3 separate regions of the Homo sapiens genome follow, and regions 1 and 2 are each linked to region 3. The links come from fine-mapping of genetic effects on gene expression. A gene starts in region 3. Each other region holds a variant in brackets. All regions are shown on one strand. Distances are between the middles of the regions.

Region 1 (4,102 bases), 99 kb after region 3:
GCACCCAGGAAAGAATACTTCAGAGTGTTAGACTCCCTACAGGCACGGCTGTGCAAGGACACAGGGAAGGTTTACTGTGCAAATGGAAGGTGAAACAGAAGTTAAGCATCACAGTGAGGAAAAAGGATATTTTATCACAGTAAAAGGAATCATTCACCAGGCCAGGCACGGTGGCTCACGCCTGTAATCCTGGCACTTTGGGAGGCCGAGGCAGGTGGGTCACCTGAGGTCAGGAGACCGAGACCAGCCTGGCCAACATGGCGAAACCCCATCTCTACTAAAAATACATAAAATTACCCAGGCGTGGTGGCGGGCGCCTGTAGTCCCAGGTACTCGGGAGGCTGAGGCAAGAGAATTGCTTAAACCTGGGAGGCAGAGGTTGCAGTGAGCCAACATTTTGCTACTGCACTCCCGCCTGGGGGGCAGAGTGAGACTATCTCAAAAAAGAAAAACAATACCCAAAAATAAATAAGTAGAATGATTCACCAAAAAGATACAGCAACTAATGAGCTTGAATGTACCTAACACCAAATTATGTAAAGAAAAAAAAAGTAAAGCAAAAACTAACAGCATTTTAAGGAGAAATTGATGAACACGCCATCAAAGGTGGATATTTTTACACAGCTCTTATTATACTGTTTCCAGACAAAAATGAAAAACTAAGGAAAAAAAATTGGGGCCAGGCGTAGTGACTCACGCCTGTAATCCCACCACTTTGGGAGGCCAAGGTAGGTGGATCGTATTAGTCCAAGAGTTCAAGACTAGCCTGAGCAACAAAGTGAAACCCCATCTCGAAAAGAAATTTAAAAATTAGTTGTGTATGGTAGCATACGCCTATGGTCCCAGCTACTCAGGAGGCTGAGGCAGGAGACTTACTTGAGCTCAGGAGGCTGAGGCTGCAATGAGCTGTGATTGCACCACTGCACTCCGACCTGTCTTAAAAAAAAAAAAAGAAAAGAAACCCTGAAAATTGGAAGAGTGAAATGAACAAGCCAAGCCAGGTCTAATAGCTAGATAGAATCTTCCCTACAAATAGCTGAGTTCACACGGAAGGGTTATAAAAGTTCTACCAGGACAAAGGAAGTCTCGGGAGCTTTCCAAACTTCAGTCTCAAGCCATATTTTTTAAATCATTATACAATTAAATTTTAAATCAACAGTAGAAACGAAGTGGAAGAATGTTTTCAACTTTCAATTCACTGCTGAGTAGCTCATGCATTAAACATGTAACAAGAATAGAAATCACAAAGTACTCAGAAGCTAACACAATCGAGAATGTCCTGTCAAGCCTTATGCAATGCAGCTGAAACAGTGCCGTCTGTAGATTCAGATGAATTTGTTGTACAACAAGAAAGAGGGCCATAAAAGAAGCCTAAAGACATAGGAAGGATGGGAATAAGAGACCTCAGTCCCCAGGAGTCAAGGGAAGGCTGAGGCACTCATGGCCTTGGGTGTCTTCCCCTGTCCCCCTTCCTCCCCGCTGCAGCCCCCAGATCTCTGTTGCCAGGAGGCAGGAGGGCTCGGAAGTCAGCTTGCTCCTGGTGACACCTACACGCCACTTCTCCATCCTAGAATGGAAAATAATTGAGGTAGAAACTGAAGAAGAAATAAAGCAGATGAACAAAATCCAAACCTACTTTGAAAAGAGATATTAGGGCCGGATGCGCTGGCTCATGCCTGTAATCCCAGCACTTTGGGAGGCCGAGGCAGGCAGATCATGAGGTCAGGAGTTCAAGACCAGCCTGACCAACATAGTGAAACCCCGTCTCTACTAAA[A/G]ATACAAAAATTAGCCGGCCGTGGTGGCACATGCCTGTAGTCCCAGCCACTCGGGAGGCCGAGGCAGGAGAATCGCTTGAACCTGGGAGGCAGAGGTTGCAGTGAGCCGAGACTGCGCCATTGTGCTCCAGCCTGGGTGGCAAAGCAAGACTCCATCTCAAAAAAAAAAAAAAAAAATTGCAAAGAAGGGAACACACTGGAGATTCTTTTTTGTATGTATATTTAAAATGTGTACAACTAGAAAACATTCATCAGGGACCTTGCTAAATGCTGGAGCAGGGCTTGTGGGGTGGGGGTTTGCTGCTGGCGTGGCCATGCCTGCATCTTGGCTGACTTTTTGGTCCATGCTTGTGACCTTGTAATTAAACCATTGAATGGTTATATGTACCGCCCCTGGCCTCTGGGACAGTCTCTGATGGAGCCGCCCTGCTCTCTCAGGTGCTGGGCGCAAGCTACCGGCAAAGCACAGGCACTCCTGACAGCGTTCAGAGCCTCCCAGCGCCTCTGCCTGGAGCGCCGGTGTGCTTGTGCTTGGATGATGGCTTGTCCGCAGCCAGTCACCTGGTTTAGCTTTAGATGTGTACGTTGGTGACAGTTTCCATCTTGACCTCAAATCAAAATAGCACCAACAGTATCGAGGGACTCTTAAGGCATCAGAGGCACGTTCTGCAGTGAAAAGACTGCATTTAACTCATGGGCCTTCATGAGAGTTGGCGGAAAATAACCCCAGCCCACATGGAACATTAATTCATTTAACCTGGTGGTCAGCAGTTGTTAAATTTTATGTAACACTATCCTACCGAGGACCTGTATTAGCCAATTTAAAAACTTCAAAATAGGGCACCCTGGCCAGCGGGCGGCGCGGCTGCCTGGCCCGCCTGCTTGGCTCTGCCGGTCCCTGGCCGTGTCTAACGAGATGCCTGTGTTGCCGAAGGTTGGGAAAAGTGGAAACATTCCAGCAGGCACGACTGTGGACACGAAAATCACCCACCCCACCGAGTTCGACTTCTACCTGTGTAGTCACGCTGGCATCCAGGTAAGGCCGGGAGTCCCCTTCGGACAGAGTCTTGGCCGTCTGCCGTGTCATCCCCACATTCAGCAAACACTTGCACTCTGGCTGGCACGTGGGATGTGGTGTGAGGGGCCCACACAGGCAGTACCAGGGAACCGGGGAGCCCAGGCTGTGCCAGGCGCTGGGGTGGGGAGAGGGGCCTGGGGGGTGGGTCAGCATGAGCCTCCCAGAAAAAGGAAGTCCCATTTGGTAGGGCTGAGGAGCAGGGAGCACCAAGGGCCTTGGGGAGCCAGGGGTGTGGTGTGGCTGGAGCTTGGTGAGGTCTGAGCAGGATTGAGGCGCTGGGGCTGCCATGGGGTGGAAGCTGGAAGGCCACTGGGCAGCTGCTGCAGGGGCCGCATGGGGCAGACTTGGCGTCGATTCACGAGCACTTGGCGCAGTCAGCCTTGCCGTCCCCTCGCGCAATCACTGGCCAGGGCCAGGCTCCAGCCAAGGACTGGGTGCTCAGAGAAGGTGGCCATGGTGTTGGTTACCACCTTGAGGCTCTCCTGGGTTCCTTCATGAGGGGACCCCCATCTGACCCAAGGCGATTCTTGGGAGCACTGACAGGAGCAGGAGCACCACGTCCGTGGTAGGAGCTGCCCCTCCCCAGCTCTGCAGAGCCTCGCCCGGGGGACAGGAGGAACCTTAGTCACGTGCCGTCCCTGCCTGCAGAGAGCTTGATCAGAGGGGCTTTTGGTTTTTCAAAGTATAAGTAAGGACTTGAATATCCCTTCCTAAAGGATTTGAACCCTAGAGTTTGAGGATTTGCTATGAACTTTGTACGTACCTTTAATATTCCATTGGAAATATTTTAAAATGTCACATTGTTCACATGCCTGACAGAGAAGGAATGGGGGCTAGGGAACCGTGGCCTGTGGGCCGGGTCCAGCCTGCAGCCCGGGAGCTGAGAGTGGGTTTTGCTGTTTGAAGGGTTGTTGAGAAGCAGGCGATGGAGTGCGTGCAGGGTTTGTGGCACTTCCTGGTGCAAAGTGCCTGTCCCAGTGTTGGCTTGCTTTGCCAGGGCTGGTGAGATGGGCCTGGGGCCATGCCCTGCCTGCGTGTGCCCTCTGTTCAGTCTTCCCTTCTAGTCGGGGAGCCTCACCCACCAGGGCCTCCTGGGCATGTTTCCTGGGCAAACTCTTCTCCCTGAACTTTCTACCCAAAATCTTTCTAACGGGGGATGCTTCTCTGGTGAGCTATTTATGGCCCAAGGCTGCCACTGCTGCTGTGTCCTTAGCAGTCCCATGGAGACAGATGCCCTCACTCCCCTGGG
Region 2 (4,102 bases), 23 kb after region 3:
CAGCAGTAAGTACTGGATCCTGGATTCAGACCTGGTGGTGCCTCCAGGTTCTAGAACCTTGACTCGTGTGGCTCCTGGTCTGGTTGTTGGACCCCAGGCCCGGAAGGACGCCTTAGTAGAGTGTGGGCTGCATTGTCACTGCAACAGGTTGCTGAAGACATGAGGAGAGTAGCTTGCATTCCTTTGCCATAATTATGCAAACGTGCAGGACTTTTAGGGGACCTCTCTGAAATAGAGCAAACTTCATTAGGGAATCAAAGGAAAAGATTGGCTCAGAATTTAGTGGGTTTGGATTTCCCAGTGTTTTCATTAAAGAATTGGTTTAATGTGTTTTTCTTAGGACACTGTTTTGAATAAATGAATATTGACTTGAGTCCTGCCTTTGCTTTTGTTTTGTTTTGAGACGGAGTCTCACTCTGTCTCCTAGGCTGGAGTGCAGTGGCACGATCTCGGCTCACTGCAACCTCTACCTCCCGGTTTCAAGCAGTTCTCCTGCCTCTGCCTCCCGAGTAGCTGGGACTACTACAAGCACACGCCACGCCCAGTTAATTTTGTATTTTTAGTAGAGACAGGGTTTCACCATGTTAGCCAGGATGGTCTTGAACTCCTGACCTGAGAGATGATCCGCCCGCCTTGGCCTCCCAAAGTGCTGGAATTACAGGCGTGAGCCACCGTGTCTGGCCTTTTTTTTTTTTTTTTTTTTTTTTTGAGACAGGGTCTTGCTCTGTTGCCCAGGCTGGAGTGCGTTGGGGATGATCATGGTTCACTGCAGTTTCAACCTCCTGCACTCAAGCGATCTCACTTCAGCCTCCTGAGTAGCTGGGATCACAGGCATGCACCACTACATCCGGCTACTTTAAAAATTTTTGTTGTGGAGACGAGGTCTCTCTGTGTTGCCCAGGCTGGTCTCAAGCCCCAGGGGTCAAGTGACCCTCCTGCCTCGGCTTCCCTAAGTGCTGGGATTATAGGTGTGAGCTACCATGCCTGGCCAGCTGTTCTTTATAGTGTGATAGAAACCAGACCCGAATTTCTGCAGTGGTCTTGTGGATAGAGTTCCATTTGTCGCCGATTCTGCCAGTATTACCGTTATTCCTGAAGAAACCTCAGGCAGGGCTGCTGTGTTTTTAAGAAAATACTCTAGATGACAATCCACTCCTGGAAAGGGACATTCAGACGGCAGCTCTTCAGCTGTTTTTGGTTGGGACCTCTTTACATTCTTAAGTTATTGAGAACCCCGAAGACCATTTGTTTATGTGGGTTATATCTGTTGTATTACAAATTAAAACAGGAGTTTAAAAAACATTTGATACAACAACATGTCATTATATTAAATATGTATTCATATAAATGTTTTTATGAAAGATAATTTCTTCTAAAACAAAATATAATGAGAAGAGTGGCGTAGTTTTACATTTTTCCTAAATCTCCTTAAGGTCTGCCTTAATAGAAAGCATCAGCTGGCTTCTGCATTCTGTCGACAGGGATATGTTGGGGTTTTTTTGTTTTTTGTTGCTGTTGTTTTTTGAGACGGAGTCTTGCTCTGTCGCCCAGGCTGGAGTGCAGTGGCGCTATCTCGGCTCACTGCAAGCTCCGCCTCCCGGGTTCACGCCATTCTCCTGCCTCAGCCTCCCGAGTAGCTGGGACTACGGGCGTCTGCCACCACACCTGGCTAATTATTTTGTATTTTTAGTGGAGACGGGGTTTCACCGTGTTAGCCAGGATGGTGTCGATCTCCTGACCTCGTGATCTGCCCACCTCGGCCTCCCAAAGTGCTGGGATTAAAGACGCGAGCCACCATGCCTGGCCAGGGATATGTTGTTTTGGTTGAAGTATAAAAAAAAAAATCTGGCCTCATGCAGCTATGTAGCTGGAAGGGAGGGTTGTTGTTGTAGCCTTTTCAGATAATTATGGGTATTTGTTGCTACTACACCA[A/G]AACTCGAAAAACAGTAGTTTCATTTTGTTTTTTTTGAGACCGAGTTTTTTGGGTCTTGTTGCCCAGGCTGGAGTGCAGTGGCGCAGTCTCGGCTCACTGCAACCTCCGCCTCCTGGGTTCAAGCGATTCTCCTGCCTCAACCTCCGAGTAGCTGGGATTACAGCCACCACACCCGGCTAATTTTATATTTATAGCAGAGATGGGGTTTCACCATGTTGGCCAAGCTGGTCTCAAACTCCTCGTGTGATCCACCTACCTCAGCCTCCCAAAGTGCTGAGATTACAGGCGTGAGCCACCACACCCAGCCAGAAAAAGCAATAGTTTCTTGAAAGTCAGGTGCAGTGTAGAATCCGCAGCTGTAGAACTGCAGCCCGAATGGATCCTGTCTCCCATGTGTTTTGTCCATCATGCACCAGGCATTTGGAACACACTAGCTCACAGAGTTACACGGGCCTTCCAGCAGTGACACATTTAATCACACAGATCATCAAAACATCCCATTCACGAACACTGCTGAACTAACCAGAAGTCTTTTTTTTTTTTTTTTTTTTTTTTTTTTTTTTTTTTTTTGAGACAGAGTCTCGCTCTTGGCCAGGCCGGAGTGCAGTGGCACAATCTCAGCTCACTGCAACCTCCGCCTCTCAGGTTCAAGCGATTCTCCTGCCTCAGCCTCCCGAGTAGCTGGGACGACAGGCGCCCGCCACTGCTCCCGGCTAATTTTTTGTATTTTTAGTAGAGACGGGGTTTCACCGTGTTAGCCAGGATGGTCTCGATCTCCTGACCTCGTGATCGCCCGCCTCGGCCTCCCAAAGTGCTGGGATTACAGGCGTGAGCCACCGCGCCCGGTCGAACTCACCAGAAGTCTTTTAAGTATTTGGAAGCTTGAAGCTCATGGTGGTGAATATGTTTTCCACGATTATAATTTTTATGTTAAAGCTTGAATTTTACGATTGCAACAGACACCATCAGCCATTTTCTTTGAAGTGCAGGTCACTAGGTCTGCTTGGAGAAGACATCTGCCCGGCACCCTACTCGAGGTCACAGCTCGAAAGGCCACACTCAAGTGCCTCTCCTTGGGGTAGCCTCACACTTAGGGGTATGTGGGTATGTGCACCCCCCACTTCCTCATACAGAACATTCAAAAGGCTTAAGAGACCAGGCACGGCCAGGCACAGTGGCTCACGCCTGTAATCCCAGCACTTTGGGAGGCCGAGGTGGGCGGATCACCTGAGGTCAGGAGTTTGAGACCAGCCTGGCCAACATGGTGAAACCTCGTCTCTACTAAAAATACAAAAATTAGCCCGGTGTGGTGGTGGGCGCCTGTAATCCCAGCTACTTGGGAGGCTGAGGGAGGAGAATCGCTTCAACCTGGGAGGCAGAGGTTGCAGTGAATTGAGATCGTGCCACTGTACTCCAGCCTGGGCAACAGAGCGAGTCTCCATATCAAGAAAAAAAAAAAACAAAGGCTTAAGAGTCAATGTGGAATAAACTTGATGCTTTTTGCTGCTTTCTGCAGGAGTTTTAAGGTAGGCTGGCTTCGTCCCCGTGCTGTGCACGTGCTGTGGTGGTGAGTCCAGCGTCTGAGGGTACTGCCTGCCATCGCCGCCTTGCACTGTGCAGATGCACCTGCAGTTTCACCTTAGCCACCGGAGCAAATGTCAGCACAGGGAAAACACAAGCCGCTCTGGCCCTGGGGACCTCCCTGAAGCTCCCCGGACCACACTTAGAGAACCGCTAAGTCAGAAGACTCCTAACTCCTGTTCTGTTTAACTCTCGAATGATCTGCATGCGCGCGTGTCTACTTAATCCCAGAGTGTTTCGGAGAGATGTTCCACTTTAATTAAATTGTATCATGATTTACACACATGTTTGAATAAAACCACCCAAGAAGAGCATCTGATTTGGAATCTAAAATCTCATCTGCATGGAGTGGCCGCCTGGCTGAGTCTGTGAGAGATTTGGGGGACTGTGTGTTTTTTTCAAAGTCTTTGGATGGACTGTTGCTTTGAGCATATGGGGGGGTTGGCCATGGGCAGGACAGGGGCTCCCAACCCCTCTGGTGCAGAGACAGTGGGGCCCAGGGGCCTGTCGCCTTCAGGAACCAGCCTAGGCTGGGCCCGTGTTCTCTTTTGGGCTGTGGGTATGGGAGCCGGGCTCCCTGCTCATGGT
Region 3 (4,102 bases):
GAGGGACACCAGAAGAAAAGCAGGTTGGGAGGAGGGTAGGGATGGGGCTGCAGGAAGCGGGCTGAATTCCTGAACACAGGTGTGGAGGGTAGAGACCTGCAGAGAATGGGCTTATCTAGGAAAAGAGCAGAGGGAACCCCGTGCCCCAGAGGGCGAACCCAGTGACTGCATGGGCCCTGGGGATAGAGATGGGGCAGGCAGCAATGGCACCCCTCCGCCAGCAGAGGGCCACGGTGTCCGCCATCCAAAGAGAAGTGACACAATGAAGCCCTCAGAGACATTATCTTGCCTTCTGGAACGAAATCCTTGCAACAAAGTTCCCCAACACAGCGCTCAAAGGAGCTGAAGGCGGGCTGAGGGCAGCCAGTGATGACAGAGCCTTCTGGGCCTTTGCTGAGGCGTGCAGTCGCTGACAGCAGGGCAGTTGGGCCTCAGGGATTTCGGGCCAAAACGAGTTTTGGGGATATGTGAAGGAGACAGGGGCAGAGAGAGAGGGTGGGCATCTGCGAACTGGGAAGATTGATGAGGTTGCATGGTTCATAAATAGGAAAGTGGTAACATTCATGATTATTTAAAAATTTCCGTGAAATACTACAGTAAAGGTACAGAAAAGCATATAAAGTAAAAGTGCAGTTTAAGGGATGGCTGCCAAAGGGCACCATTGCAGGAAGGAACAGGCCTGGCACCCCCAAATCCCCCAGGGGCCCTGCTGTGGTCACAGCCCTCTCACCCCCAGCTGTATCCACCATTCTGACACTTAGAGTAAGCACCTTCTTGCCCTTCTGTCAATTATTTACTACTTAATGATGCTTCCCTAAAGAATGCAGTTTAATTTTGCCTGTTTTGGAATTTTTGTGAATGGCTAGATTCCATCCTGTGAATATGAGCACACTGTTTCTCCATCCTGCTCTCCGTGGGTATTCAGTGCCATGCAGTCCAAGCGGTGATGAAGAATGCCATGCACACTCCTACCCAGGTTTCCTGGTGTTCATTACTACACATTTCAGGAGCACGTTTTGTATCGGCAACTTGGTGAAGACTGATGTCCTTTTGAGTTTTCGGAGGAAGTGCTGGTTCTCCTGCCCTTCTTCAGGGCTGTCCTCCGAGACTGCAGAGAACTAGTGACCACCCTGCTGGCTGCGGAGCTCCTGTCAGTCAGAACTCCTGTTTATTCTCCGCCCGGAACAGGGCCTTGCACCCATATGCAGACAGCCGATGCCACGGGGTGAAGGAATGCTCCGGGAAATCTGGGAAAAGGCGACCAGGCACTTTAGATTGTGGGTCAACCTCTGCCTTCTAATCCTCCATCACTTAGGGGAGAAAGGAGGTAGCCACAGGCTGGCTTTTCCAGGAAAGCCTCCGAAAACCAGACGGACCCAGAGGGACCGGACAGAAACGCTCGGAGGTGCACGACGGTCCGAGCAGGCCCCTGACTGCTGGAATGGGCGTGTCCGCTGATCTGATCCCTGATACCAGCTACAGTTTACTAAAAACTTCTTAGATTTTCTCAGTGCTTTAAACGGATTATCTGGGTTCTGGGGCCGCGCCGGGAGGTGGCGGTGTGGTCCTGCGCGAGCGGCCGGCCGCGTTCAAGTTCAAGCTCCGGGCTGGGAGGGAGCTTCCCGACCTCCGTGTTTCTGTAGTAACTTAAAGAGCCAGGCTGGGGGCCGAGGGGCTGAGGGTGGGAGGGTTCTGCGCCCCCCACCGGGGGGCGGCGGGGAAAGCGGGGGCGCGTGGCCTCCCCTCCGGCTCCGGCGGCACAGCCGGGGGGCCCGGCTCCTCCCCGTCGGGAAGACGCGGCTTCTCTGGGTGGCAGTGAAGGGTCCCCGGGGCCGCGCCCGCCCCCGCGCCACACGGGCCGCGCCGCCCTCGGCCCTCGTCCCCGCTCCCGCCCGCGGTTCCCACCGCCCGGCGAGGTCTCCGGGCCCCTCCCCGGGTCCCCGCCCCAGGCCCCGCCAGACCCGGCGCCGCCGCCGCCGCCGCCGCGGACCCCGCCCGCGCGCCCAGCCCCGCTCCCCCCGCGAGCGCGCTCCCGCCGCCGGCCTCGCCTCCCCTCCCCCTCCCTCCTCCTTCCTCCCCCGCCCCTCCCGCTCCCGCTCCCGCCGCCGCCTCCGCCCGCCGCCCCGGCCGCGTCGGGTAAACCTGTTTGGCGAGGCGGCCGCGCCGGGGCGGATCGTGCGGCCGGCGGCTCCCTCGCGGCTCGCGGCGTCGGGGCCCGTGGCGCGCGCGCGGCCGCCCCTCGGCCCCGGAGCCCCTCGGCGGCGCCACCATGTACTCGGGAGCCGGCCCCGGTGAGTCCTGGCGCTCGGGGCGCCCGCCCGGCCGTTCGCGCGCTCCTGCCCGTGGTTGGCGGGCCCGGCGCGGGCGGCAGGGGCCGGGGATCGGGGGGCCGCGGGGTCGGGGCGGCGGGGGCCGGGGGCGGGCGAGCCGGGGCCGCGCTTGGGGGCTCGAGGAGCGGCGGCGGCGGGGCCGAGCCGGCCGTTTTCTCGGCCCCGCGTTGGACGCGCAGCCCCGGCCTCCTCGGCCCCCGCGAGTCGTCGGGGCGCCCCGCGCGGCCTGGGCCCCTCCCGCGCCTCGGGCCCGCGTCCCAGCGTCCTCGCATCCCCCGCCCGGGGCCCGCGGGCTGGGGCCGGGGCCGAGGCGGCCGCCGCGTGTAGGCCCGAGGCCCGGAGCGCCCCGCTTGGCCCGGCCTCGCTGCCCGGGCGGGGATGGGGGCGCCGCAGCCCGGCCCGGCCTGACCCTGAGCGCCTGAGCGGGTGGAGGCCGGGTCGGGGCGCCCGGCTCGGGGCGCGCACGGGCGGGAGGGGAGGGGGCTGCGCCGGTCCCGACCCCAGCCGCGGTGAGTCTGTGGCGCGCTCCGTTGTGGCCCTTCTTGTTGCCGGCACTTCTTCGGCCCCTTTTCCCAAGGAAAGTCTGGAAATGCTGAATTTTGGCCAATTCCTGTAGTTAGGGCTGTCGCCTGGAAAGGGGAGGACGCGGCTCCCCGGAACCCTCAAACTGCGTGCGCGGCTCGTTCTCATTCCAGACACGCCGGCCTCCCCATTCAAGTGCTAATTCCTTTTACAATTTCCTAGGAGAGGTGAGGCGAGGTGGATTCCTGTAGCACCCCTTGTTGCTAGTCGGCCTTTCTCTGGAAAAGTTCTAAAAAACTTAAAGCGGTAACGCGTTGTTTTTCTTTTTAAATGCAGAGTAGAAGGCGGTCTCCTTGGTGGGCCAAAAAAACGGTCAGGTGTTCTCCTGCTTTTGGCGTGCTCCCACCGGGCACGTGGCTCCTGGCTCTCTCGGCCGGCCTGGCCGCTGGGACGGGGCACCGCCTGCTCCCCTTTGTCCGCTGGGCCCCAGCCGGGCCGCAGGCGGCGCAGGCCCCGCCGGGCTCTGGGCTTATGTTTACCCGGCCGGGCGAGGAGGCTCGCATTCCCGATGCTGCCCTCGTTGCTGCAGACCGGCCCCAAATTGTGGGGTCCGGAAGGCCCCCTGGCCCACCTTGGTCCGTTGATGGTGGCCCCCACTGCTGGAGCTGTTGGCTCTGTGCCTTGCGAATGTCGCGTCTTTTTTCTGATGTCATTTAGAAAGCTTCAACAAGGCGGAGTCTGACCAACTTTTCAACCCCTGAGGGCCATCAGCAGTTTGAAGAATGATTTTCCCCCTCCACCTGGGAGGGGCCGCAGTCCTGGAGCAGGTGCTGGCCTCTAGAGGCCTTGGGTGGCCAGGCCCCCTCTTGGGAAAGGACCGGGCATCCCCTTGTGAGTTGGGACCTTCCAGCTCCTCTTTGTAGAGGAACCCAGCTTATGGGACTGACAGCACTACATTTTTTCAGGTTATCGGTTTTAAAAGTTGGAGGCCCAGAAAAAGTGAAGAGGCTTTAAGGAAGGTCAAGCTTTCTGTGTTGTGTTTTGCGTGTTACTTAATTCACTCCACTTGCTGAGGTTGGTGGTGTTTGTGAAGACAGACAGCCGAGGCTCACAGAGGTTGAGAACTTCACCAAGGTCACACAGCAGTGAGTGAGTATCAGGACAATCGGTCCGACTTCCGAGCTGGTTCTCTGGGTGCCTTCCTCAGGGCAGTCCCTTTCAAGCCCTATAACCCAGACCCACAGTAAGAA

Evidence for each region. PIP is the estimated chance that this variant, and not a neighbour inherited with it, causes the effect. A credible set is the group of variants that fine-mapping cannot tell apart.
Region 1: its variant is the best candidate, but not a certain one, in a credible set for the expression of AGO2 in iPS cells (iPSCORE, PIP 0.68).
Region 2: its variant is the best candidate, but not a certain one, in a credible set for the expression of AGO2 in whole blood (INTERVAL, PIP 0.78).

Annotation. Positions count from the first base shown.
Region 1 is chr8:140,534,177-140,538,278 of GRCh38, reverse strand. It overlaps AGO2 (argonaute RISC catalytic component 2), which reads left to right. Exons shown (of 19, transcript NM_012154.5): 17 at 2,710-2,811. Among named protein-coding and RNA genes, the nearest start is that of CHRAC1, 25 kb to the right of the region's middle. The variant A/G (reference allele first, on the strand shown) is at 1,776.
Region 2 is chr8:140,610,622-140,614,723 of GRCh38, reverse strand. All of the region lies in intron 1 of AGO2 (argonaute RISC catalytic component 2), which reads left to right. LOC107986982 (MAGE-like protein 2) reads left to right here. Exons shown (of 2, transcript XM_017014159.2): 2 at 1-2,475. Among named protein-coding and RNA genes, the nearest start is that of ERICD, 22 kb to the left of the region's middle. The variant A/G (reference allele first, on the strand shown) is at 1,933.
Region 3 is chr8:140,633,674-140,637,775 of GRCh38, reverse strand. It overlaps AGO2 (argonaute RISC catalytic component 2), which reads left to right and starts at 2,143. Exons shown (of 19, transcript NM_012154.5): 1 at 2,143-2,291. The coding sequence starts at 2,270. ERICD (E2F1-regulated inhibitor of cell death) reads right to left here and starts at 3,541. Exons shown (of 1, transcript NR_170171.1): 1 at 1-3,541. RefSeq lists silencers at 1,579-1,978, 2,629-2,798, 3,282-3,331 and enhancers at 3,138-3,904, 3,905-4,102.